Linked DNA regions of Homo sapiens: region 2 is linked to region 1. The links come from fine-mapping of genetic effects on gene expression. Tissue or cell type: whole blood. Region 1 holds a variant in brackets; the other region holds the start of a gene. All regions are shown on one strand. Distances are between the middles of the regions.

Evidence for each region. PIP is the estimated chance that this variant, and not a neighbour inherited with it, causes the effect.
Region 2: it holds the start of REM2, and the variant in region 1 is fine-mapped to the expression of REM2 in whole blood (TOPMed, PIP above 0.99).

The regions. Positions count from the first base shown.
Region 1 is chr14:22,911,897-22,914,396 of GRCh38, forward strand. All of the region lies in intron 1 of RBM23 (RNA binding motif protein 23), which reads right to left. Among named protein-coding and RNA genes, the nearest start is that of RBM23, 6.0 kb to the right of the region's middle. The variant G/A (reference allele first, on the strand shown) is at 1,497.
Region 2 is chr14:22,881,686-22,884,299 of GRCh38, forward strand. REM2 (RRAD and GEM like GTPase 2) reads left to right here and starts at 1,537. Exons shown (of 5, transcript NM_173527.3): 1 at 1,537-1,705. The coding sequence starts at 1,603. It overlaps LRP10 (LDL receptor related protein 10), which reads left to right. Exons shown (of 7, transcript NM_014045.5): 7 at 1-28. RefSeq lists enhancers at 1,250-1,788, 1,789-2,326.

The sequences.
Region 1 (2,500 bases):
TGTGACCCTGTCTCAAAAACAAAACAAACAAACAAAAAACACAAAAAACAATACATAAAAAAATAGTCAAGGATATAGAAGAAAACTGAGTATCTAGGAAGAAACAAAATACAACACTGATCCTGTTCTATGAAGAGAAAATGATGGTGGCCAAACTACTGTTCACTATAAAATAGACATTAGGTCTCCACTCTACTGTTCAAAATTCTGAATAAATACCTGGTTTAAACTCAAATAATAAAAACAGGCCTGGCTGCTACAGATGTGAGAAAAATATAAAACGAAAAAATAATAAACAAATATAGGCACATTATGTCCAATAAAAAGATAAAGAGGCACGACTAAAAATCAGAAGCAAGTCAAAGCAACACCAAAATGCAGATTTGCCCTAACGTCTTCCTCTCCGCATACCCTGAACACCAATAATTAGGGCCTTATCCCTGAGCATTTTCTAACCAATACCAACTACAGTTTAGGTAACTCAGAAATATGATGATTAAGACAGGCTCGACTAATCCCATCTTGAAACCTTTCTCTCTGGCAGGCAAGGTAAAACGTGCCTCCCCAAGCTTTCACATCTAGAAACTGCCTCTCCCCAGGCTGTCTACCACCAGTTTGTCAAATAAGAAAAACAGAAAATACCAAAGAAAACCAATAGGATAAATTATTCAAATGTTATTGGTCTGGAATTATCAACCCACACATGGATGAATCTCAAAATAATTACACGGAGTGACAGAAACCAGCCCCCCCCACAAAAAGTACACAATGAACAATTCCATTTACATAAAATTCTAAAAAATGCAAACTAGGCCAGGCGCGGTGGCTCATGCCTGTAATCCCAGCACTTTGGGAGGCCGAGGCGGGCAGATCACGAGGTCAACGACGAGGTCAACATATCGAGACCATCTAGGCCAACATGGTGAAACCCCGTCTCTACTAAAAATACAAAAATTAGCTGGACGTGGTGGCACGCGCCTGTAGGCCCAGCTACTCGGGAGGCTGAGGCAGGAGTATCACTTGAACCCAGGAGGCGGAGGTTGCAGTTAGCCAAGATTGTGCCACTGCACTCCAACCTGGAGACAGAGTGAGATTCAGTCTCAAAAAAAAAAAAAAAAAAAAAAAAAAAGCAAACTAATCACTATATCAAAGAAAGCAGAAAGCACATCAATGGTTGCCTAGGGATAGAAGTAAGGGGAAGGGCTGGGAGAAAAAGATTTTAAAAGGGCACAAGAAGGCCGGGCGCGGTGGCTCATGCTTGTAATCCCAGCACTTTGGGAGGCCGAGGCGGGCGGATCACGAGGTCAGGAGATCGAGACCATCCTGGCTAACACAGTGAAACCCTGTCTCTACTAAAAATACAAAATATTAGCCGGGCGTGGTGGCGGGTGCTTGTAGTCCCAGCTACTCGGGAGGCTGAGGCAGGAGAATGGCATGAAGCTGGGAGGCAGAGCTTGCAGTGAGCCGAGATCGCGCCACTGCACTCCAACCTGGGC[G/A]ACAGAGCAAGGCTCCGTCTCAAAAAAAAAAAAAAAAAATTAAAAAAAATTAAAAGGGCACAAGAAAAACTTTGGGACCAACTTTGGGGCCAGGAGTTGTGGCTCACACCTGTAATCCCAGCACCGTGGGAGGCCAAGACAGGTGGATCACCTGAGGTCAGGAGTTTGACACCAACCTGACAATATGGTGAAATCTCGTCTTTATTAAAAATATAAAAATTAAGGCTGGGCACGGTCATGAGGTCAGGAGTTTGAGACCAGCCTGGCCAATATGGTGAAACCTCATCTCTACTAAAAATACAAAACATTAGCCAGGCGTGGTGGCACGCACCTGTAGTCCCAGCTGCTTGGAAGGCTGTGGCATAAGAACTGCTTGAACCCAGGAGGTGGAGGTTGCAATGAGCCGAGAACGCGCCACTGTGCTCCAGCCTGGGTGACAGAGCAAGATTCCATCTCAAAAAAAAAATACAAAAATACAAAAATTAGCCAAGCATGGTGGCGCATCCCTGTAATCCCAGCTACCTGGGAGGCTGAGACAGGAGAATTGCTTGAACCCGGGAGGCGGAAGTTGCAGCCAGCCGAGATGGCACCATTGCACTCCAGGTTGGGTGACAGACCAAGACTCTGTCTCAAAAAAAAAAAAAAAAAAATTTGCTGGGCATGGTGGCTCACACCTGTAATCCCAGCACTTTGGAAGGCCGAGGCAGTTTGATCATAAGGTCAAGAGATCGAGACCATCCTGGCCAACATGGTGAAACCCCATCTCTACTAAAAACACAAAAATTAGCTGGGCATGGTGGCGCACGCCTGTTGTCCCAGCTACTCAGGAGGCTGAGGCAGGGGAATCGTTTGAACCCGGGAGACAGAGGTTGCAGTGAGCCAAGATCGTGCCACTGCACTCCAGCCTGGTGACAGAGCAAGACTCTGTCTCAAAAAAAAAAAAAAAAAAAATAGCCGGGTGTGGTGGCAAGCACCTGTAATCCCAGCTACTCAGGAGGCTGAAG
Region 2 (2,614 bases), 30 kb before region 1:
TGTGAATAAAAGTAAGTAAAAAGTAAAAGTAAGTAGGCCATGACTGAGGACTGGAGAATCTACCCAGTGAGTAAAGCACAGGAGTATTTTAGCAGCTGAGGGGTCCTTTCTGCTCCCTCAAACCCTGCACTGTTGCCCTATAGCTGACCTCCAAATAAGTGAAGTGTCACTGCACATTGTTCCCAAGATTATTCTTTGCCTCTTCCATTGGAAGAGTCCACTGAGGATAGCAATATAGACTGTTCCCAATAATAGGAGACAGTTGGAATATTTAAGAGAAGGAAAGCTGCACAATGTAGAAATGAAAAATCCTTGGCACTGGAAAGATGTGGGTGGGATTCCTGGTGTTCCCATTTTCCAGCTGCAAGATTGCTTTAGGGACGGGGCACCCACCTACCACTGTGGGCCTTGGGCTCAAGAAGATGAAAGGAGATAATGCAAGAAAGTACTTAGCACAGCATCTGGCAAAAACGGGGCAAGGAAAGGAAATCGGAACGTGTGTCTGGGAGCTTAAGGGTGTCAGGAAGGAGGACAAGAAGGAAAGGGGCAGGAGAAGGAACCTGAAGGGAAAGGGAACTGGGCAGAAAAAGAACGGTAAAAGAGATGTGCTATCTGGGCTTCCTACAAACAGGCAGACATCACCCATTGCGTACCTGCCTTGCATAGCCCAGAAGGCCTGGCAGCTGCACCAAAAAAACATTAACAGTGGGTAGGGGAGTTGGGGGGTAGCTGGCACTCCCCCTTCCCCACCCACTTAAGATTGGGAACCTCGTGTTTGAGATAGCTAGCTTTGTCTCACCCTTTTTTCCTGCTCTGATTATCGTTAGCTTGGTGGGCCTGGCAGGGAGAGAAGGTGGAAGAGTCTCCACAGTGGTTTGCCCCTACCTGAACTTAGTGGCAAAATGAAGCTGCCCAAATGAAGCAGCTGAATTTCCTTCCTCAGAGCCCGCATCTGCCTAGGGGCTGGGAAATGAGTACTTTCGTGGCTCTTAGCCCAGAAGAGGCAGGGTGGAGAAGGAAAAGGTGGCAGGGTGGCTGACCCTCAGTCCCCACACCTCTTTTGGCCTGCATCTCTTTGTCTTTCAGACCAGCTTTTAATCTTTCTGCCTCTTGCCCCTGTGCAGCCACTGAGCACGCTCTCTGGGCTAGACACTGGGCTAGGGGTCTGGAAATACAAAGACAAATGATGCGTAGTCCTGGCTGCTGGAGAAAGACCTTCACCTCCCCAGGTCCCTGCCTTCTGTCACCCTGAGCTCCCTTACCCACTGACACCCCCTGCAACCCTTGTCTGTTCTGCCCCTTGACTGTTCTGTCATAACTCAACCAAGCTCTGCAGTGTGTGTGCTCCCAGAGAGAAGCGACACAAAGAAAAGGGAGGGGGGGCAGAAAGGAGGGAATCCCGCTGACATCACTGCTCATTAGCATGTGTGACCTCATCAGGGGGTGGGACAATTTCCCCAGGTGTCTAGGGGGGAGGGCATGTGTGTGTGTCGGGGGGGGGGGTGGTATTTAAAGGGAAAAGCTGACAGTGCTGCTGAGTGAGGGAGAGGGTGCTGCGAGCTGCTGGGCTGCACACGCACACGCACACGCACACGCACACTGATGCACACGGACCTGGACACAGACATGGACATGGACACAGAAACCACAGCACTCTGCCCCTCTGGCAGCCGCCGGGCCTCCCCTCCAGGGACGCCCACACCAGGTGAGGGCTAACCTGGGCAGGTTCCGGCTGAAACCATGGGGGTGGGAGCTGAAGCTTTGGTGGGGAGGTCAGAACTAGGGGTTGAGGGAGCTTGAGCTCAGTCAGCAAGAGGAGAAGAGCAATTGAGAAAGTGGAGAAGACCCCTGCTCACACAAGGGATTGGGGCTGGGCTAGGGTGGAGGGGAAGAGCTGCCTAAATGCCCCCTCCCCCAGCACTCCCAGGGCTTTGCTTGAGAAACTGGTACATGGCCCCTAGCTCAGCCTCATTCCCGAGGCTGGAACAGGCAAGAAGGAAGGGGAGAGGAAAGGGGCAGCCCACAAGCCTGGGAATCACAGGCAGGGGCTACCCCGGGGAACTATTGTAAGGGTTCTTCTGGCTGCTGGAGGCCCTGGCTGCTGGCCAAGTATTGATCCTGGGCTATTTCCAGCCTCCCTCTAGCCCCCTTTGTTGTGTCTGTTGTTCCTCCTCCAGTTACCCTGACCCACGCATTGTCACTCTCCCTTTCGCTCACACACACACACACACACACACACTATCTCTCTCTCTCTACTTCTACTGCTCTATGAACACAATATTCTCTCCCACTCACAGGGACAGACAGGGATGCAGGATTCTCACATCCAACCACGCAATGAGGGATGCTCACCTACAGGGCCACGGGAAGCAGCAGCCCCTCTCTCTCTCTCACACACACACACAGAGAACCCACAGAGACCCAGCACGCACATCATCTCAAAAAGCAAAGGCCCTTTCCTAGGAAGAAGCTCACTACAAAGTTTTTTACTCTGCTATACCTACTCCCCAGACACTGGGCAGCAGTTTCAGCTTGTCATCCTCTCTGCTCCTCAGTTTGGGGATTACCAGTGCTGGAAACAGGAGGAGGAAGGGCCTCTTGATGGAAAAAGAGG